Linked DNA regions of Homo sapiens: region 2 is linked to region 1. A link means that fine-mapping ties the variant in region 1 to the expression of a gene that starts in the linked region. Tissue or cell type: whole blood. Region 1 holds a variant in brackets; the other region holds the start of a gene. All regions are shown on one strand. Distances are from middle to middle. Region 1 overlaps B3GLCT (beta 3-glucosyltransferase). Region 2 holds the start of B3GLCT (beta 3-glucosyltransferase).

Region 1 (11,637 bases):
GCACTTTGTAGGCTGAGCCACTGTTCCTTTTCCCTTCCTCAAGTATTCTTCTCATCCTCGGCCACAGGAGGCTTCCTCTAGCCTTCCTCATTTGATCTCTACTTAGTTTTATAGTATAGAAAGATTTGGTCTGACTTCTCCATGGGAGAAGTCCCACGTGGCTGTGATTTTTCTGACTTGGGACTTATAACCTCTGTATAAGCCTGTTTCTCTCCCATTTCCCATGTGCTATGAAGTCCCTTGAGAGAGGAACAAACACAGCTCTTGCCTGCCCTGTAAAGTGCTGTTAAGTGCAGCAGGTTCTTCTTCCTCCAGGGCTAAAGAGGAAACCAGTGGGCCCAGGTAGAGCTATATGGCAAGCGGGGGTGTAATCATTTCCTTGAAGCCAGTGTAGCTCTTTTCTTCATCACTGCCTTCTGATCCAGGAGGCCTCTCATCCTGAAGGCAAATCCTTATAGTCTAGAGTTTTACCTTCCTTCTTCCCATCACAATTTCCTGTCTTCCTTTAGCAAGACTTTCTTGGAGACCTCTTGATGCTGAATTCAATTCCGTTTTTGTTGAATTAGGTGTTAGAAGTAACTATTTATTCTTGCTTCCTTTGACTTACTGTCTGAACCAGGTGCAGGTTGATGGAAGTGATCCTGTTTGAACACATTTTTGACTCCTGGCATCCCTATATAGGGCAGTTCAACCTAACTCTTATGGCTGACATGCTGGCATTAAGTATAACCTGTTCTAGGAAACCTCTGTCCTCTGCTTCACTGCTCATCAAGTGTAGCAGCACCCAGAGCACTGGCAGGCTTTGTTGGCTCTGGCTAGTGCTCACCTCATTACTGTCTCATGCTCACCACATGACTAGCTTCCAGGGGTTCATGAACCAGGGTTGCAGGTTGTGCACTAGCTGAGATGTTAGCTTTATTAAGGGGCGACTGTATGTTCTGGATTATCTGGCATTTTGCAAGGTAGTCCCACAGGAGACCACAGGTCCATGATTCCCTTCCCCATTGTGTTTGTGAGATCATTGAACACATCTGTTGACAAGGGAAGGTAGCCAGTGCCCAGCTTCCATAGCGGTTTCACATCTCCCTTTCTAGTCAAGTTTAACCATATTTAGGAGTGAGAACTGAGGGCCTTGTCACTGCAGCAGGGTGTGTAGGCATCTTAGTCTGTTTGGGCTGCTATAAAAAAATGCCATAAACCAGGTAGCTTATAAACGACAGCAGTTTATTTCTTATAGTTCTGGAGGCTGGAAGTCCAAGATAAGGCGCTGGCAGATTCAGTGTCTGGTGAGTGCCAGTTTTCTGGTTCCTTTCCTTCTTGCTGTGTCCCCTCATCTGGGAGAAGGGACGAGGGGTCTTTTTTATAGGGGTGCAGTCCCATTCATGAGAGTTCCCTCCCCATGGCCTCATCACCTCCCAAAGACCCTGCCTCCTAATAACATTGCCTTGAGGGGTAGGACTTCAGCCTATGAATTTGAGAGGGGACACAAACATTCAGACCATAGTAATAGGGAACTATGACTAAGGGAATTAAAGCCAAGAGGTTAATCTTTTCCACAAAGCTCAGGAAATTCCCAGCACTTCCCCGTGACTCCAGTATGATAGAGGAGTGAGGCACCAGATAGCCTTCTGCATGGTGTGTCATCTGCTCGTCACAACGCTCAACAGTGACCAACAAACCGTAGAATGTGTATAGTTCATTGATATCCATGGTCTTCTCCCTACCTCCTCTCCCTTTCCTCTGCCAGGAAAAAAAAGCAAAATAAATATGCAGACTCTACCATAATGCCATATTTAAAATTCTACTTACCTTAGATCATATTTCCTTTCCCCCGATGCCAACAAGTAATCAAGCAAATGATATAACCCATCTAGCATAGCAACTATCTTGTGGTCAAGATATATTTTAAAATGGCTTTCTAGTGGGGATTCTTATTTATTCTTCAAGAAACTGGTATTATACTCAGGACTAAAGGAAGGATAAAGTATTCATTAGCCCCATCAGCTGCAACATTGGATCTTCCTAGTTGTTGTTTTCCCAATTCAAAGCTAATGTGCTGACTTTATTTCTTCCTATTATTATTAGCTATATCAATTAGCATGCTTTTGGATGCAAGTAATAGGAAGCAACTCAAACTGGATTAAGGAAATACTTTTGCTGTAATTGGGGTGAGGTCTGTGGTTGGTTGATCTAGCAGTTTATCAATATCATTGAGGACCCACACTTTCTCTGTCCCTCTAGCCTATAGTACACAGAATCCATTTATCCTAAATCTGGTTCCTCTTGTGGTTTCAAGACAATAAGGGCTACATATTTCCTGTTTGCATCCAATAGTAGATAGCCTGTTCCCAACCATGAATGGTAAGTGCTTGTCCTCAGTCTGGTTGGGCCAACTGCATGTGTGTTCTAATCTCCAGACTATTAACAGTTGCGCAGGAATTTCATTGATTATTAGAATTATTAGAATTTTCAGTTCTAATCCCCAGAGTATTAACAGTTGCCAGGGAATTTCATTGATTATTCTGGCTGGCCCAGAGTAATCAATCTCTGACTCTGGAGCCTGTATAATTGTTGGGCTCAATATTAATCAAAACCAGAATTTGTTTAGAAAGAATGAAGGGGAAACTCTGTATTATATAGACAACCAAGAAGGCCAGTCCAGGAATGTTGATTCCCTTTGTGTCCTTTCCTTGACTTTACGGCCCACATTGTAGGTAGCGTAACAACTTACAGTTACTTAGGTGTTTCTTCTGTCCTAGTCCCCAGGACAACTGGTTACCTAAAGATAGCTCATGAGACACACTTTCTTAGACTGTTTCCAACCAAAATTTTATTTGGCCTAACAATTCCACATCAGTTTTGAGTTCACACTGCCTAATATTTCCTGGCAGTCCATCCATTTGATCAATTAAAACAATACTTTCATTTTTGGAGAAATTTTCATTAACTACCAATAAGATGATTTCTTCAAATATATGTCATTCCAGGACACTGTTTCTGGTTTTCTCCATTGTTTTTCCACCAGCAAACCTTATCGAGATTTCCTTCAGCAGGTGGCTCTGTTGACTGATTCACAAGTGGGACTGAAAAAGTTAGCCTGGAAGTGGGACTGAAAAAGTTAGCTAGGAAGTGGGACTGAAAAAGTCAGCTAGGAAGTAGAATTGAAAAAGTCAGCTAGGTATTGAGTTGAAAGGACCCTCAGTCATTTGCACATCTGTAGCCTAGGTGGTTGTGTCATTAGAACTGTGCTATTGGGGGCATGACTTAACTTCTTTTTTTTTTTTGAAACGGAGTCTCGCTCTGTCGCCCAGGCTGGAGTACAGTGGCGCAGTCTCGCTCACTGCAAGTTCCACCCCCGGGTTCACGCCATTCTCCTGCCTCAGCCTCCCGAGTAGCTGGGACTGCAGGTGCCCGCCACCACACCCGCCTAATATTTTTGTGTTTTTAGTAGAGACGGGGTTTCACCGTGTTAGCCAGGATGGCCTCGATCTCCTGACCTCATGTTTTGCCCGCCTTGGCCTCCCAACCTCGTGATCCGCCCACCTCAGCCTCCCAAAGTACTGGGATTACAGGCATGAGCCACCACACCCGGCCCAATAATTCTAAAAATTAGGAAAGCTAAGTACCAAACTTCGTGTTTTCCAGGAACTGAATATTTAATGAGGAAACATTTCATCTAAGTAACTGGAATTTCTGGCTTTCATTGGTTTTTTGGTATTGTTGGTTACTGAAACTAGCATTGGAAAAACCTGTTATCTTGCTTGGTGTATAGAAAACTGAAATCCAGTTACCACTATTAGGTATTGCCTTTTAAGTTAGTTGGTCACCCTGCACACTCTTAGAACTTGAACTTGTTTGCAAGGTGACTGGATGACTGACATAGGCCTGAGATGGCACGTGAGGCTAACTCTTCCACTAGAAGTCTGTGATATTGAGGTTGTGGTACACTCTGTGGGCTGCAAGAGATTGCCACTGAAAGATAGCCATGTATATATTCATTTGTCCTCTCATCAGTCCTTCTCTGTCTCAGAAATTCTTTTTTATTTTTATTTTTTGAGATGGAGTCTTGTTCTGTTGCCCAGGATGGAGTGCAGTGGCATGATCTTGGCTCACTGCAACCTCTACTTCCCGAGTTCAAGCAATTCTCCTGCCTCAGCCTCCTGAGTAGCTGGGATTACAGGCATGCACCACCATGCTTGACTAATTTTTGTATTTTTAGTAGAGACGGGGTTTCACCTTGTTGGCCAGGCTGGTCTTGAACTCCTGACCTCAGATGATCCCCACGCCTCAGCCTCCCAAAGTGCTGGGATTACAGGCATGAGCCACTCTCAGAAATTCTATCAGTGGTTTTCACTTTTTCCCCTTCTGAGGTTTCCCTCAAAGAAAAAGAATTTTCAAGGATTGAATGAGAAAGAAACTTGAAAAGCCAAAAAGATGGAGAGCATGTTTAAGGTAACAGTACTAAGGTGTTTACTGACTGTTATGAAGGGGCCTATGAAACATTGCCATCTAACAGTGGAGGTCACATGCCTCTTGTATTCTAATCACAACTTGGTGTTCCTTGCCTGTGGCAATAAGCCCGGGTATGACTTTTCTGTCTTTGGAGCCTGAATGAAATGAATACTTACTCTTTGTGGTCTGATTAGATTTTGAAGGCATGTGGCATGAGTCCAAATCCCAAAGTTACCTTGATGCAGTTTATTTATGAAAACATGCTCCAACTGAGCAGAATTCAAATTGAACAAGATCTCACTTGCCAGGGCAGACATTTTTTCTCTTAAGTATATATTTGGAGTGTATCTGAGGATATAGTCTCTCAGTCCACCCCACTTATACTCACAGATCTGTGGGCAAGTATTGAGTGGGAATGTGACAGATATTATATGGGGCTTCTTTTGGTGCTACCTGCTACCAAGCTGTGTTAGTATCAGCTGTGAGACAAATGCTTTGTAATGAAGCACATTTATCCTGTGTCTGCTTTCTGTCTTCTTCTAATCAGAAGTGAATTTTTATAGAAATCTTTCGTGGCCCAACCAGACAGATGTAATTAAAAACAGTAGAAAAAAATGGAAACTTACTAGTATTTTTCCTTTTTCTTTTAAAATTTTTGTTTCTTTCTTTTTTTTTTTTTCTTTTCGAGACAGGGTCTCTGTTGCTCAGGCTGGAGTGTGATCATAGTTGACTGCAGCCTTCAACTACTAGGCTCAAGCGATCCTCCCACCTCAGCCTTCTGAGTAGCTAGGATACAAGTGCACCATGCTTGACTAACTTAAAAATTTTTTTTTAATTTGTTTTAACTTTTATGTTAAACTATGTTGCCCAGGATGGGCTCTAACTCCTAGCCTCAAGCAGTCCTCCTGCCTTTGCCTCCCAAAGTGCTGGGATTATAGACATGAACTACTGTGCCTAGCCTACTCTTTTTAAAATCACTATTATTTCTTTGTAGTGAAACTATGTATTAGGAGGTTTGTAATTTAATAGTCTAGTCTTGAGCTCTATAAATAAATAAAAAACCATATGGTATTTTGGTGATTTGGGTAAGTATTCCTCCCTCGTTAGCTTTGAATCAAATAATATGTTGTCTAATTCATTCAGGGAGTTCACTGAGTGCTCACTGTGGTCAGGTGCGGTGGGCAGTGCTGGCAAGACAGAGGAGAAAGTATAGCACAGAGAGAGTTATGTATGCACCAGATTTTAATGAATGTGGTAAAGCTGATAGGTCCGTGCTTTGTACTCTGGTGGTCAAGGAAGTTTCCATTTACTCTGATGGGCAAACCTGGAAAAGTTTTACAGAGAAGATACCCATGAGTTTGGTGTTTACAAGTTTGCTCAGTAAAGGTTGGGTACAGGCACTCTAGGCAGATGTCCATTGGGAGAGAACAATGGGGAGGTGTGTGCTCTGGGTGTAGCAAGTGGGTGCTGTGATGCTAGAGATGGTCAGGGGAATGGTAGGGCCCTCAAGACTGGCTCAGGAGTTTGGGGCTTTATTCTGTATGGGAAAGGAGCCATTGAAAATGTTCAAACAAGACAGTGACTTGAAATAAAACAAAACCACATGCTTTTCCCCCATAAAACCCAGCAAGATTCATTAAAGTGAGAAACAAAAAGTGGCCATTGTCTTTCTCAAGCATAATTTATTTCCCTCTTTCTTTTTTCTTTCTCTGTCATTATTTAGTGTAAAGATGATAAGGAGTCAACAAAGCTTATGACTTTTTTCCCCAAGGCATTGTATTGTATTGTACGTTGTTTGGCAGATGTTGGAATAATGAATGCTACTTTTGCAACCAGGCTTGCATTCATTTATTGGTCAGCCAGCCGTTGGGTTTTCACAGTCCTTTCCCTCAAGGAATTTAAACTGTTATTTTTATCTTTAAATCTGTATGTTTATCTGTTTTCAAACACTAGAAAGTCTCAAGAATGTGTTAGTCTTGCTTGACACTTCTTTTGGTTAAAAAAAATCAAATTGTCTCTATTTTCTAGGCTTACCAAGAGACTAAAGAGTGAATCCTTGAAATCCGACTTTACAATAGATTTAAAACATGAG[G/A]TATGTCATGTTTTGTTTGATTAAAAATCTTACTAATCAAGAATTCATGTCCTTTGATGTAAAAGGTATTTTGCATTCCCTAATCTTGCATTTTCCCCACCCACATCTACTCCCCACAGAGATAATTTCATAGCACTCCAGCGAATTAGGTGCTTTTATTTTAAGCTCATTTCAGTTATGTAGATGAAGACAGAACAGTGAAAAAGGTTGCATCTTGTGATTCATGATTCTTTACTTTTAAGCTAGATGAATGGGTCCAGAGGTAGATTTCTAAAAAAATGCAAAAATGTCATTAAAAGTACCTCTGCTCTTACTTGATGCTTCGGTTGTACGTATGCCAGTGTAGATTGAATGATCATGTCCCCGCCCCCCTAATTCATACCTTGAAACCTGAGCCCCAGTGAAATGGTCTTTGGAGGTAGACCTGTGGGAGGTGATAGGGGCATGAGAGTGGAGCCCTCATCAATGGGATTAGCACTTTTATAAAAGAGGCCGCAGGGGGCTTCCTTGCCCTTTCTGCCATGTGAGGATACAGCTAGAAGGTGCCATCCATGAACCAGGAAGCAGGCCCTCACCACTTAATCTGCCAGTCCCTTGATCTTAGACTTCCCAGCCCCTAGAACTGTGAGAAATAAATTTGTTATTTAGACTCCACTCAGTCTATGGTATTTTACTGTTGGAGCCTGAACAGACTAAGACGTATGCCTTTGTTGTGTGTCTGTGCTTGGCTGTCTGGAGCAGAATTGAGCCTATTGGTCCCAAGCAGGCAGCCTGGAGCCCTAACACTCCTGGTTCCTTCACATTTACTGGACATCTGTGACCAGTTATTCTAGAGGCAGGTGGCAGTTGTCCCATCATTAATTATTCTCGAATCATCATTAAGAAGGCCCTTTTTGCATTTCACTTGTGGGCATGCCTGACTGCACAAAACAGTCTTGCCTCTCATTCTCTGCAGGAATCTGTATGTTAGGACATTAAGGTAAATCTTGACATGTAATTCAGTCCAGCAGTGCTGATGGCCTTCCAGGGACAAGAAGGCACACACAAGACTTTCTGACTTCTCAGCTGTCTTTAAATGGTAATACAGAATATTTGAGTAGAAATAAACTTAGAAAAACATAATTCTTCTCTTCCACAAAGATGAAAAAAATGGCTTGTTGAAAACCAAGTTCTGCCTAGATAGGATTAATGAAAAGTCAGCTCTAGATACTTAGGTTTGGAAATCTACTAAACATTGAATATATACAAAATAATATTTCTAACATATATGAAAGGTATAAAGATTAATGAACAAAATACTTAACTAGCTTGCCTGGTTTAAGAAGGAGACAACTATGAGTGACCTTGAGGCTACCTATGTGCTTCTTGAGGAGAGGCCTCCTTCCGTCTCCCCACACTAAACTCTCTTGAATTCTCTCCCTCTCCCTTACTTTTCTTCATATTTTATTACGTATGAATGTATTTCTGAATAACATGTAATTTTGCATCCTTTTGGGCTTTATATAAACAAAATTGTATACAAATGCTGCAGGATTTTTTGCTCCTTAGTTCAGCTAATCTGGATTCTTGTCTCACAACCAGGAAGAATTAGGCACACAGACACATTGAAGGGTGAGGAGGATGGAATGTATTTAAGTGAAAGGAAAGCTCTCAGCAAAGAGAGGGGGTCCTGTCAGCAGGTTTCCACCTCATAAAATGAATACCAGGGCCCCTACACACGAGTTGAAGAGGACTCTCCTCCCCTGCATAAGGCGTGAATTCCTGGTGGCTCCACCCCATTCTTCCAGTGCATGTGGGCCTCCATGCATGTGGGCCTCCAGTCCACTGCAGGCATGCCTAGGCAAACCCCCTGTGCAGGTTCCCATATTCGGACAAAACATTTGGTGTAAATAAACACTTGTGGGGTTGATCAGAGATTCTCTGGGGGCCCTTCCCTATCTGCCTAGGCATTTGGCTGTCTCCCACCTCTATCACAAATAACTGTTCTAATTTGAGACTCATCCATGTTGATTCATGCAGCTCTAATTAACTTATTTTTACTTTCTATAGTAGTCTCCCATATGACCATAATAATTTATTTATCCGTTCTCTTGTTAATGGGCTTCTGATTGGCTACTGGTTTTTTGCTATTACAACCATTGCTTCTATGAATATTTTTAATGTGTATCATGGTGATCATCTGCAAGAGTTACTCCAAGGCAGAAGCTTTTAAACTTTTTTTTGACTATGACCCACTTTAAAAAAATAAATTTTCATCATGACCCAGTATATTTGTGTGTGTGGTGGTGTTTCTGTTATTGATTTCTAACAGTATTATTGTAGTCTATACAACAGTCATTTGAGATACTTTTAGGCTTACTTTATGGCCTAGCTCATGTTCAGTTTTCATATCTATTAGATTGAAGAAAGTATTAATGATGCTTTTCAGATATTTTCTTCTTTACTTCATTGCTTCAATCCTTCATTTTACTTTTGTTTTGTCTGCTTATCATTTACTAAGGGAGGAATGTAGAAATCGTCCATAATAATGGTGGATTTTTCCTATGGAACTGCCAACTCTTGCTTTTTATACTCTAAGGCTATGTTAATTAGATGCATACAAACTTAGAATTGTTACATCCTCTTAGTGAATTTGTCTTTATCTTTAGTAATGCTGTTTGTCTTAATGTTTATTTTGTTGACATGAATATTTCAATGTTAGCATTTTTTGGTTGTTTGCCTCATAATCGTTTTTTGTCTTTTTCTTTCAATCCTTTTGTGTCCTTATCTTTTTTAGATGTGTCTCTTTTAAAGAGGACATGCCTTTTCCCCCCACCCTCCAGTTTGAAAATCTTTATCTTTAAACCAGATAGCAAATTTACCTTTATGTTGATTGTAATTACTGATATATTTGACTTCTATCACTTTATTTTGTGCCCCTCTCCTTATTTTCTATTTTTCCTTTTTTTTTTTTTTTGAGACAGAGTCTTGCTGTGTCACCCAGGCTGGAGTGCAGTGGCGCCATCTTGGCTTACTGCAACCTCCACATCCTGGGTTCAAGCAGTTCGCTGCCTTAGCCCCCTGATTAGCTGGGATTACAGGTGCCCGCCACCATGCCCGGCTAATTTTTTTTGTATTTTTAGTAGAGATGGGGTTTCACCATCTTGGCCAGGCTGGTCTTGAATTCCTGACCTTGTGATCTGCCCACCTTGGCCTCCCAAAGTGCTGGGATTACAGGAGTGAGCCACCGTGCCCGGCCCCTCTATTTTTCTATTTTAAAGTTCCTTGTCTTCTTATTCATTTATTTATTAGTCCATATTTTTTCTTTTCTGCTATTTTAGAAGTTAAATCTGTCTGTACTTTACTGATTATTTTAAATATTTAACATGCTTTCTTAACCTAACAATGGTTTATTAATCAATAGCCAGAAAATTTGAGGGCCTTAGGATAATTTAACTCTGATTATCCCACTCCCAACTTACATGCACTTGTTGTTCAATATTTTTGTCCCTTTTTCTTTTCACCCTGGAAACTTAGATATTGTCATTATTTTATGCAGTTAACATTTTTATTAACTCATCATATATTTGCCATTGTTTTTGCTTATCATTCCATCTTGCTTCTTAGGCCTTCCAATTGAATCCTTTTTATTCCTCCTGAAGTGTATATCCTTTAGAATTTCTTTTAGTGAGGTGGTAAATTCTCTCAATATTTTTTCTTTAACAATATTTATTTCAACTTTGTTTTTGAAGCATGCTTACATCATGTAGATGATTCTAGGTTGCCAGTCATTTTCTGTCATCACAAGTTTTATTCAATTATTTTTCTTTTTTCTTTCTTTGTTTTTCTTTTGAGACAGAGTCTCTCTCACTCTGTCACCCAGGCTGGAATGCAGTGGCATGATCTTGGCTCACTGCAACCTCCATCTCCCGGGTTCAAGCAATTCTTCTGCCTCAGCCTCCTGAGTAGCTGGGACTACAGGCGCGTGCCACCACGACCAGCTAATTTTTGTATTTTTAAGTAAAGATGGGGTTTCACCATATTGGACAGGCTGGTCTCGAACTCCTGACCTGGCGATCTGCCCGCCTCAGCCTCCCAAAGTGCTGGGATTATAGGCGTGAGCCACCACGCCCAGCCTCAGTTATTTTTCAAATGTGCTTACTTGTTTTGTGTAATCTTTTCAAAATAATTTTTTCTCACGTTTTAAAGTTTTTCTTTTCTTTATAAAAATATATTAAGCATAGTAATTTTATAATCTGTTTGATAATTCTGATAGCTGAAGTTTTTTGAGTCTGATTAAATAAATTATGTCTGCTGGCTCTTGTTCGTTATCTTATTTCTTTTTTGTGTGTGATTTTTTTTTCTCTGAGTGATTGTTCTGTAAGCACCCTTGTTCCTTTGGAAAAATCCTCTGAGCCGTATATTAAAGTAGTGGTTCCTTAGTAAGGATTTACATTAGCTTCTGCCTGTTGCTAGTGGGTTATACTGACGAGATAATTTAAATTATCAGTTTGAGATGTTTTGGGACCTCACAGGTGGCACAAATTAGGGAGGCCTGGCTTTTGGTTGCAAAATCTAAGAGGAGATTTAGAGATTATTCTTTTCCCTCCATTTAGACCCATGGTCCTAGCTTTATGTAGGGGGATTGCTGTTGGTCACACCCCACCTTGGGTGGGTCATAGACTTCAGTCTCTTCACTCCTATCAGAAACTCAGCCTTGCCAGAGGTCAGCTGATACCTACTAGGGAAAACTACCCTTGGTGCCTTTTTTTCCCCAGGATCTCACTTTCCCATTTTTGTTCTCGCAGATTCCACATTTTTGTGCCAACTTAGCAATACATGTAAATATTTAAGGGCATTTTACCCAACATTTGTAGATGTTTTAAGCAAGTTGAGTATTTGGGGTATGTGATTACCATACTAAGGAAACTGGAGCCATAATATTTTCTTACATCTCTCTCTGTGATGTTGTAGAATGTGTTCTTTCCTAAAACCGCATACTTCGGAATTTTTTGGAGGTCAGAATATTGATTCATAGTTAATTGCTTATTGTTAGTAATAGATTACATTTATTCACATGGAATTGTCATTTTTTTAAGTTTAGGAAGTCCTGT
Region 2 (11,637 bases), 69 kb before region 1:
TGTAAACCTGGATACCCTGAGTGTCAGGGACCCCTAAGAGAATCGCTGTCCTTAGGCAAGCTACTTAATCTCCCTAAAGTAAGAATGATAGTCATAAAGCTGTTTGGAAAACTAAATATTATTCAACATGAAATAAAGTACGTATAGCACTTAGTATAGTGCATGGTATATAACAAGCATTTCAGTAAAGATTAGCTATTACTATGCATCTATTGATAATGTGAGGGCATTGCTGTCACTTACACTAGCAGTAATGATCATCTTTCCTTTTTCTCCACAAACTCATTCCTCTGGCAGATCTCCGTTTTAGTTAATTGCCTCATTTGTCTCCTCTGTGGCCTCTCTCTTTGCTCCAGCATCGACTCACTCGCAAGTATAATTGATCTGACCCTCTGTTGTGCCCTCACAGCAATCCTTTCCCTTCTATTCCTGTTGCTACTACCTCCGTTAAATAACAGGGTTTCCATTAAAGGCAGTTCTGGCTGTTGGTATTTGACCTGCCTGAGACTCAGTTTACTAATCTTGTAAAGTGGGAACAGTAGTCCTGTCATAGGTTTTTCTTTTTTTGGTGTGGGGTTAACTGAAATAATATATTTGAAAGTAACTTGGGAGGCCGAGGCGGGCGGATCACGAGGTCAGGAGATCGAGACCATCCCGGCTAAAACGGTGAAACCCCGTCTCTACTAAAAATACAAAAAATTAGCCGGGCGTAGTGGCGGGCGCCTGTAGTCCCAGCTACTTGGGAGGCTGAGGCAGGAGAATGGCGTGAACCCGGGAGGCGGAGCTTGCAGTGAGCCGAGATCCCGCCACTGCACTCCAGCCTGGGCGACAGAGCGAGACTCCGTCTCAAAAAAAAAAAAAAAAAAAAGAAAGTAACTGGCAGAGTGCCTAGCTACTGCATGTGTTCAGTACATACATGTTAGTTTTCCTTCATTTCCCCTTTCCTCATAATTTTTTCTAGCCAGTCTTTTTTCTTTCTTTCCCCTCTCTAATCCATCCACAACATTAACACTGAATTAAACTTCTCACAGCACTGATCAATCATTAAATCAGTACCCAACTCACGTGAACTGAGTGTTCATCATGTGAATTCATCACAATTGAAATATTCATTATTTTTCTGATAGGGGTTGCCGAGTTAGGACACCAGGTAGGCCTTACGAGCTACAGTCTTGTAGTGGAGGTTTTGGTCATCACCTGCTGAAACATCCTTCCATCTATCCACTGCTCATTGCCCCACTCAAGGGAAGGCCATTCTCCTAGCACGGTGCCCAAGCCCCTGCTCGGTACGGTCCTAACCAGCCTCCCCTCCATGTTCCCTCGTGCTGGCCAAACTAAACAGCTCCTCAGTCTCTGAACTCTCGGTCTTCCATGGCATTTCTTGCTTGTCTCCTCTGCTTGGAATGCCTTCTCCCCTTCTCTCTTGGCAACCGCGCCATCTCGGTGAGGCCCCATGCAGCCCCACTGATGAATGTGCTTTCCTTCTCCTTGCCCTTGTTCGTACGCTTCTTAGGGGATTTCCATGTTCCAGGAGGGTTTATGGCTATTTCTGTATGTCCTGGTCCTCCTAACTAGACTGTGATCTCCCCCAGGAAAATGCATTTTCCTCCAAACTCAGCATGCCATATGAGGGCCTCATACATGCAGTTAGTCCGTGATACATTCGTCACAAACACATAAAATTTTTGTTGAGCTTATTAAGCAAGATCCTACATCTGAAAGCAGCTGTTGTAAAATGAACAACTACTTATTAGCAACAGCACCAAAAACACCAACACATTTTGTGTGGGCTGCTGAACAGTCATGCCCCACGCCTTCTGTTCTTAGTGAAAGTCAAATGCAGACACTTCCTGTCATGCCTGCTATGAGTGATTCCTGATCTTTACTGGGAACAGAAGGATATGTGATTCTACAAAGGAGAGCGAAACAGCCAAGTAGATCATCTATTTCTGATTAGAAGTTTCTAGGATAGCTTTCTTGTAGACAGGCTTTATATCACTCTGTGTCTTCAAATGTCAATGGCTTCAGATTTCTGGGCTTTCCTGGGGGGTCTGCTGAGATGGTAACCTGTTATATTTCCTGGATTTTGGTTCAGGGTTGTTAGGCTGTGAGAATCCCTTTGTTAAGCTTCTTTGAATAAAAATCTTGGTTGAAAGTTTGGTTTGACAGAATGGGTTTTGCCTAAATATATATATATATATATATATTTTTTTTTTTCCAGACAGAATCTCACTCTGTCGCCCAGGCTGGAGTGCAGTGGCGTGATCTCGGCTCACTGAAACCTCTACCTCCCCAGTTCAAACGATTCTCCTGCCTCCCCCTCCTGATTAGCTGGGATTACAGGCGTGCGCCACCATGCCCAGCTAATTTTTATATTTTTAGTACAGATGGGCTTTCACTACATTGGCCAGGCTGATCTTGAATGCCTGACCTCAAATGATCCACCCGCCTCAGCCTCCCAAAATGCTGGGATTACAGGTGTGAGCCACTGCACCTGGCCTTGCCTATAATTTTTGAATAGCTTTGGAAGCAATGTGAGACAAGCTCCCTGAGGGCATTAAAGAAACCACCGTATGTCATCAAAGGATTCTTCCTGAGTACATGCAGTGGGGCTGTGGCTCTGGGTCCTCTCTGAGTGATGAAAGTTTTGCTCCCTCTCTTCTCTTCCTGTCTCCCTCTTCTCCACGGGGATCATAGATTATCTTCCTTCCCAAAACGCTAAAGCGTAAGGTACAAGTGATGAGTCTTTCTCCTGTAACCCCCTAGTGTGCACTGATTGTGGGGTGTGAGGATGGTGAGCAGATGATTAAAGTACTGTAGCATAGGTCTGATATTATAATGACCTTAAGTCCCGGAGACCCTGTTTTAGACATTCTATTTTACTATTAAACCTTAAGACCTGATTTTAGGTTTGGAAAATAATCCTCAAGACCACTCATAATTCATAAACCTGCTGTTTTATGCAGGAAGAGAATAGTCCTCCTGAATTGTGTTGACTGCTAATCCACTTTAGGCCTGACACTGAGTGAAAGGGCACCGAGAGTGGGAAGAGTTGGAATATGCCCTTTGGGCTTTGCTAGTATAGAAACAGGGTGCCTGGGAGGCCCCTTCCAAGTCACAGGAGAGAGGCAGCAGGCTGGAGGGGGCACAGTGAGAAGCTGTTCCTCCTTGCAGCCCCTCTCCCCACCCGCCACACTACTGTTGATTTGCACATTCGTGCTGTGCCTCAGCCTGGGGCGCCTGTCCTCCTTTCTCAGCTCAGGAACCTGCTATTTCTCCTTTAAGATCCTGTGCAACAGTCGCTTCTTTTCTTACAGATTCCAAAGGCCCTGAGAGATTTTTTTTTCCCTGTGTGTTCCAAAGTGTGCTGATCTACGCATGCCATAGCATTTATAAGAAGGTAGCAAAGTTAGTTATGAACATTTTTGTCTCCCAAACTGGACCGTGAGTTCTTGGGCCCAGGACCATGTTTTATGCTCTTTAATATCTGCCCCAGAGCTTAGCAAAGGGCACATCAGCTAGAGGTGCTCCCTATCATTTGAATGAATGGAGTTCAGCCTTTTGGGCCTCAAGGATAACTGTTGTAAGATCAGAAACCATCTGTTTGGAACTTGTTCATTAGATTATTTGGCTCTCAGTGGTTTTAGTATGTCTTTATGTTCTCCTTTAGTATTTAGAAAATTATCTGTAAAATTACCAGTCTGTTTTAACCAGGTTGCGACAGTGCCTTCCCCAACAAAAGATGGCTCCTTGCTTCTTCCCCTGTCCCTCAACAAAGAAAGTTTCAGGGGCCAGCATGGAGGTGACAGCTGGGATTGAGTAAATCCCAAGAAGATGGCTTGCTTGTTTTCATATCACAATCTTAAAGTTTATAGGATTTATTTTTTTTCTACTTAGAGTTGTTCCTTTACAGTCAATGTTATAGGCAAGCAGTGCCTATCATGTATCTGTTAGTATCCTCATCAGTACGTTGCTCTAGGAAACTCTCCTGACATGTGATTGGGAGAGAGAACTCCCAGCAAGTCCATTTATCATATGACTAGAGTAAGTGAAAGGCAATTCTTTTTAAAATGTGAGTTATGGAGCTTTGTAATGTGCCATTTATCTATGTCTACTGTGGAAAGGAAGGACACCAGGGCAAGTTTATTACTTAAACGGTGTGTTCTCTGTTGTCCTTAGGGCTTAATTTTCCACACCTTGTTCTGGAACATAGTAATACTCTAACATGATGAATTTCCATGAAAACATTGATTAAGCACCAGGAGTTGCTTACCCACGTGGAGTAGGCATTTGACCCTGCTTATTAGTCTTCTGTGTCTAATTAAACAGTTTGGTTAAATGTTTACTACCCCACATATGCAAGGAATATTTTCTTGGAAAAAAGCGAAAACAGCTTTGGAAATTGGAAACAATCTAGAACTACTAGGCAGGTAAGCTTGAGAATTTCCCAAGGATAAAAGCAATGAATTCAGTCAACCATAGATTTGAAATGCTTCACTAAGAAATGAAATGGAAGGATCCCTACATTTCTTTTTCCTCCCATCAAAATGGTATTGACAAGAGACCATAAACCTTGGGCGAATGGAACAAAAGGGAACTATTTGCACTCACACTAAATGGATCACACGTGAAATATTTAGTTCCCAGTTTTAAGAAGTCAATATAAACCACACAGAGAGAAAATTCTTTGTCTCCAGGCCTCCTTTTCAAAACAATCCCAGCAGGTATTGCACAATTGCAGACAATACTGTCCTAATGCATTAGAGCCTAAGTCCCCTAAACGCATTCAAGTTAAGAGGGCTCAAGCCTACAAATGTTTATTCAGCACCTGCTTCTCTGTCTCCAGGACATCCTACTTGTATTCCCAGGGCCATCCTACTTGTACTCCCAGGGCCTCCTCCTCCTTAAATGTTTAGCAAGTAGGTGAATGTTGTATGTCCATGTGAAAGATACTGGCATTCCTAGGGTGCTTAGCAGAGTTGCAGTCACATAGTAGGTATCCAACAAATGAGTAAATATGAAGGAAAACATAGAAACTGCCTTCAAGAGGTCATGGGCTAAACTAGGGCTGGGAAAAGCACTTGGTCCTGTGCACTTCCTTGGAAACAGAAGTGAGCCAAGGCTTGAGGGAGGCACGAAGGAGTTCAGAACCACTGAAGGGAGCCTCTAGTTCTTACTTGTAATGCTTTCCCCTTCAGTGCACCACACAACACAACAGGACCAGTCCCCTATCAGGGCCACCACTCTACCGGGCTGGGGAGGAAAGCCCTTCGCAGTCCTGCGGGAACAGGAGGCACTCCCACATTGCTCCACTTCTCTGTATTCCAGTTTAATTAATTTTTATATTTTGAATAAAATTACACCCACTCTCTTCCATTATGGTGAACACTTAAAATTACATTTATAGAAAATTACATTTACACAAACTTGTTTAAAAGCCAAATCCCAGACCTAGGCTATTGGCCAAATTCCATTTAAAGGGGATATTAAGTAAATTAGTTGAGCTGATTAAAAACACCTTCATCAAAGTAGAGCATTGGTGCCAACAATATTAAGAGTTGAACTATTGATTACATTTTTTTTTCCACAGCAGATAATACATTAGCAGGGAGGAAAAGTGATTACTGCTCGCTTCCACTTCACAGGTAGAACTACTGATGGGGGTGACGCGGTAAGGTGGGAGGGCATGAAGGCAGGGGACGCGGCCTAGGTCAGGAGGGACGCAGAGGAGAAAGGAAGAGGAGGGGTGGAGGCTGGTGGCTGGAGGGGGCAGAGGTCAGACGCCTCGAAGGAGGGCGCCGTGAGGGCAGAGCCGCGGCCACCTCTACCGCAGCAGCCCGTCGGGCCGGACACCAGCCGCAGCCGCCAGCCCGGCAGACGCTGGAAGCGCGCACAGGGGTGCTCCCGCTCCCGGCCGCCAGAGGGCGCGGCCGGCGATGGCGCGGCGGAGACGGAGGGAGGAGGGGAGCCGGCAGAGAAGGGTCAGCCGCGGCGGCAGGGCGGCGGCGGCAGCGGCGCAGCTCCGCTCCCCGCGCGTCTCCCTTCCCCGCGCCCAGGTAGGGCGCTCAGCCTCCGCCGCCAGGATGCGGCCGCCCGCCTGCTGGTGGCTGCTCGCGCCGCCGGCGCTGCTCGCGCTCCTCACCTGCTCCCTGGGTAAGTAGCGGGCGGCCAGGCGCGCAAGGGCGAGGCGTGGGGTTCGCGGGCACAGTCGCCCGTGCCCCGGTCGGCGCGGGGAGGGAGGCGCAGGGCGGCCCAGCCCTGCCCCGCCGGCGCGCGCGTCCCGCCGTCCGGTCCCCGCCGCGCCGCGCCGTCAGCAGCGCCCTCTCGCGGCGCCCAGGTGGGACCCGGGCCCGGGACCCGAGGCGTGCCCGCTCGGCCCCTTTCGGTCTTGGGTCCCCGCTGCCGCCCCGGCCCCAGACTCGCGTCTCCCAGCCTCTGCCGCCCCGAACCGGCGGGCGACGGGGCGGCGAGGGCGCAGCAGCCGCCCCCACAGGAAGCGCGCAGGAACTGTGCCACCGAAGAAACTTTGCAACAGCGCGAGTGGCGGCGGCGGCGGTCCCGCCCCCCTGCCTTCCGCCCGCGCTCCGCCGTCCTGCGCGCCCCGCGCCGGGCGGGAGGCTGGACGGGAGCCGGCGAGGCGGCCCTCGAGGCCCCGCGGCTCCTGTTCGACCCCCGGGGGCGAGGACTGCGGTCCCGGTGTCCGCGCGCCCCTCCGCAGGGCCTTCGGGACGTGCCCTGGCCCCTGAGGATAAGCGGCCAGCTCGGCGCCAGCCCTTCCCGGATTCCGACCCGGAGGAGGACAGGGGCGCCCGCTGGGCCTCCGCGGGAGCTGGCGCGGCGGGGAGGCTTGCTCCTGTCTCGGGTCTCCGCTGGGGACATCAGGGGACACGTCTGCGAGCAGAGCAGTGCTTGCCCGGTCTCCTGCTGCTGTAATGCCCATTCTTTTTTATTTCTTTTCTCCTCGCAAGGGCATTTCCCCCCTTTATCTTAAAACGATGTGATAAAAGTTAAAAAAAAAAAAAAAGCAGCCTTGTAATTGACTTTCATGATCAGATTTGTTCAACTTTGAAAGCTTGAGCGAAAAATTATTTTTTTTTCAGACTGCTACAGAGTTTTTGTCCTCTAACCCAGACTTGCTGGTGTGAAAAGGCAATGATTTCAGATTTTTTAGTAATGGCAGAATGGTGCAGTTTAGGAAAAGACGTAGCGTTATTGCGCACTGCTCTTGTTAGCCCACCGGAACCTTGACAGCCTGTTTTTATTTGTATTTAAGCTCTCTGAATAAGGATTAATTTGCTGCATTTGTGTACTTCTGGCATTTCTATAGGCGCTCAGTAAGTGTGGGAAAAGAGCAAGATTAGTTGGTAATTGTTTACATGCATGATTAATTAGGCAGCAGTGTAATTAAAAATATTAGGGCACCTCCGGCAGAGAAGGCTGTAGTTGGTCTTGGGGAGCGACTGAATTTGGCTGGAATCGGCTTCAGTGGAAGAAGGGCATTGCTGGGTGGCAGCCCTGGGAGAAAGGGAGGTTGGAGGTTTGGGAAAGCGACTGGGTGACTCCTGGCTGCATCAGTTGGCTTGTTGCCTGGATGTTTTGCAACTAACCAAATGGGTGGGTGGTAGCTGAAATTGGTATTCTATTTATAGCACTGCACTTTATAATGCTGTACTGGGGGTATAATATTTGTATATAATATATACAACATATGGGCTGAAATGCACATTTGTATTGCTGTGTCTATTTTTTATTACCCCCAGGGGAATATTTGCACTGTCCAAATTTGATAATACACTGAAGGACATTCAGAATGCACTAAGATGTCAACACATTTTTAGAGATGTCTATTAGCCTTGTGAAGTTGTCAGATAAGCACAATAAATAAGACATAAAATGCATTAAAAGGTCCCTGTGAGACATTTGGCCTTTGGGAACTGGCTTTCATGGGTTGGCACAGACGGGAGGCTGTATTCTTCGAGGTCTGAAGTGAATCATGAATACCTTTTATGGAGCTCTGCTTCGATTTAGGGGAAGGGCACCGACACGTATAAAGATGTCCCCACTTACGATGTTCTTGGAATCTTGCTGAAACAGAATGTGACAGGCGTTCTGTCACATGTGAACAATCTTGATAGTTTATAAATACCTTAAATATTCCCATATAAGATTGGCCTGACTATATAGTTTAGTTTCCCCACAAACTAGAGCATATTTGTTTATATTTTTAGAGAAAAGTCAATATAGAAAATTTCTTTTAAACCCACATGCATATACAGACACGGTTCACTGCAACTTTGGTTCTAAAGTCTGGCACCAGTTTCAGAATGAGAAGATTGAGTCAGGCCTCCAGGTTACCATTTGTTAGCTGTGTGGCTTTTAGTGGCTTTGAGCTTCAGTTTTCTCATATGAACAGGGCGAATGGACTGGATAGAATACTAGCACTTTGCCACCTCTTACAGTTTTAACATACTGATCCCGTTGTAGCAGAGATTGACAGCCACCTGCGAAGTAACCCTTTAGCCCTTGTTTTCCTAACAAAACTAATATAATCTGGGTTGGGGGGAAGGATGGTGGGGTGGTGGTGGCAGCGGTGGCAGCAGCACTGTGAGACATTTCTCAGTGGCCTTTGCATATAGGGGCAGCTAGTGCTCTACAGAGATATCTTTAGAGATTGTTTGGTGGGGCTCCTGGTAAAGCTCATTCAAGGTGGCTGACTCAGCTGGGATGCAGGCCTTTTTGCTCTGTGTTATCCTCCTTCCCATTGCCTATTAAGTGGATCTGAGGGATGGAGCCATGGTGGCCATCTTGTGACCATGAGGTGACCTTGAAGATGGAAGCCAGTAGTAAGGATGGTAGAAGAGAAAGATAGAAGAAGCCTGGATGCCAGATGGATGTGGAGCATCATGTCAGCTCTGCATTTCCTGTTTGCAGACTTGTATTGCATGAGATTATATGCAGCCAAACCTAATCCTATTGCCAAACCTAATCCTAATTGATAGAAGAAGCTTATTCGAACCAATGATATTGATAAAATAATAGGTATTAGCTTTTATTTTTCACATGCCTGTCTGTCACTTCCCTGTGTGAGCCAACTTTGTATTTCTTAGCACCTGCCAAAATTGGGGATGGTTTTTCATTCTGAGCCAGGTCTTGCCCAGATTCCTTTCATTGCAATGAGTCAGAAATTTTAGGACACCAAGAGTCAGACCTAATTCCAGGTTGTTTTGTGTTTTTTGATTCTTAAAACCTTCTCTTTATTTCTTAAGCAGTATGCAGATATTACTGGCACAGATTTTAATCTTCTGGATGGATTCTTTGTCATCCAGGTAGTCCAGGACCTCCGAGTTGGCATGGCTCCCCAGGTCATGGACTTGACCCAGGGGAGTTTGCCAGTAGCCAACAGCTAAGCCAGTGGGAGGGAGGGAGAGCATCTGTTTCAAATAGCAGTGTGAATTCGAAGGAGGTGCTTTGACCCCTTTGGTAACTTCCTGCGGGACAAACATTGTGGGCTCGGTATTTGAGCACTTCCTTATAATTGGCTCTTTTGGAGCCAGGTTTTTTTGGTGTGTTTTACTAGACTCATTATGAAGCAAGCAAGCAAGCATAATTTTTAGGCATAAAGGTACTACTTAGAGAAAATTTGCAAATGTTCTGTTTTTCCTCTTGTAGCATTATGTGTGATCCATCTTTGGCTTTGCACAGATTACTTCTTAAGAACAATATATGGGAGTCCCCATAGGTTAATCTCATCTTTTCCATGATAAAGGAAAAGTTGTGAGTTTCAAGGGTTCATCAGACCTATTGAGGAAGTTCTTCCTTACTACCATGATTTCAAAGTTCTAGTCACTAAGCAACTCCCAAAGAAACCTGATTTAACGTAGGCGTTGACTTGAACTACTAGAAGAATGTCAATTTAAAAATAGTGTTAAAAAGAAAAACTGCCCAAAGCCTCTCATTTATTCAGAGTAATGTGGGTACCTACTGTGTGTCAGGCATCGTGATATTGCAGGAACAAGACAGATCTAGTCTGTCTCTACCCTTGGGGAGCTTGCAGCCCGAAAGGCAAGGTGATGTTAAGCAGTAATGACTACAGAATGAATCGTGTCTGTGCCAAATGCTGTGGAAGAGATGTTCAGGATGCTGTGAGAACATGCTGCAGGGAGATAGATGGCTTTTGCCTAGACTGGGGAGATGGATCTCAACAGGGAGCCATCTTGCACCCCAGGGAACGTTTGTTGCTGTCTGGATACTTTTTGGTTATCCCAGGGGCTGGTTTGGCAGAGGGTGCTACTGACATCTAGAGTCAGGGGTGCTGCTGAACATCCTACAAAGGCACAGGACAGTTCCACCCCACCATCGAACAATTAATTATCGGATCCAAAATGCCAACAGTGGCAAGCTTGAGAAACTGTGGGGTAAGGGTCAAGGAAGGCTTCCTAGAGGATGTGACGTTAGAGCTCAGACCCGAAAGGGAAGCAGAAATCAGGTAAGTGGGTGGCAGAGCTTGGTGGTGAAGGAGCCAAGTGGAGAAAGGACGGAGGACTGAAGGGCTGGCAAGATCATTAGGGGCCAGGTTGGGTAGGGCCTTGCAGATCAGGGGACATATTTTGGGGTCATCCTTAGAGCAGAGGGAAGTGTTTGAAGGGCTGTAGTGGGGCAGTATGTGATATGGCTGCCGTTTCCTGAAACTCACTCTGGCTGTCTGATGGAGCAGGAGTTGGAGGGGGCCATTGTGGATATAGGGAACTGTGAGGAGGCTGCTGGACACAGGTTGTGAGAGATGATTAATAATCTCTCAGACTCTGGGACTGATTAGGTTCAGTGTGCTGGGAGAAAGGGTGGGGGAAAGGATGAGTCATACATTTCTGTCACATCCACCATGGGTAGTAGTGCTGTTTACTAACTTGGGCACTGAAGGAGGAGGACCAGGTTTTTAAAAACAGTTTTATGTGGTTCAATGTACATAACATACAGTTTATTAAGTATAATGAATTTTAAGTGTATAGTTCTATGGCATTAAGTACTTACACAATTTTTTGAAATGTACTTTGACTTTTAATTTTAGGGGGAGGTGAAGCTGAGTAAGTTCAGTTTTGGACAAGTTGAGTTCAAAATGCATGTGAGATGGCCAGGTACCATGTTAGGTGAGCAGTTAGATATTTGGGTCTGTAGAGGACAGGTCTGGCTGGAAGGTATTTTGGGGGGTCATTATATTAGGTGGCAATTTGAGTAGGTTTTTTTTTTTTGTTTTTTTTTTTAAGAGTTGGGTGTCTGGTCGGGCATGGTGGCTCACACCTGTAATTTCAGCACTTTAGGAGGCTGAGGCAGGCAGATCATTTGAGGTCAGGAGTTCAGGACCAGCCTGGCCAACAAGGTGAAACCCCATCTCTACTAAAAATACAAAAAAATTACCCGCGCATGGTGGCGTGTGTTTGTAGTCCCAGCTACTTAGGAGGCTGAGGCAGGACAATCGCTTGAACCCAGGAGGCCGAGGTTGTAGTGAGCAAAGATTGCACCACTGCACTTCAGCCTGGGTGACAGAGTGAGACTCCGTCTAAAAGAAAAAAAAAAGTTGGCGGGTCTGGCTATATTGCCCAGGCTGGACCTGAACTCCTGGCCTCAAGTCATCTGTCTGCC

What was found.
Region 2: it holds the start of B3GLCT, and the variant in region 1 is fine-mapped to the expression of B3GLCT in whole blood (TOPMed, PIP above 0.99).

The regions. Positions count from the first base shown.
Region 1 is chr13:31,262,734-31,274,370 of GRCh38, forward strand. B3GLCT (beta 3-glucosyltransferase) reads left to right here. Exons shown (of 15, transcript NM_194318.4): 8 at 6,481-6,544. Among named protein-coding and RNA genes, the nearest start is that of B3GLCT, 69 kb to the left of the region's middle. The variant G/A (reference allele first, on the strand shown) is at 6,545.
Region 2 is chr13:31,194,002-31,205,638 of GRCh38, forward strand. It overlaps B3GLCT (beta 3-glucosyltransferase), which reads left to right and starts at 5,974. Exons shown (of 15, transcript NM_194318.4): 1 at 5,974-6,153. The coding sequence starts at 6,084. RefSeq lists silencers at 5,615-5,674, 5,725-6,624, 6,685-6,934.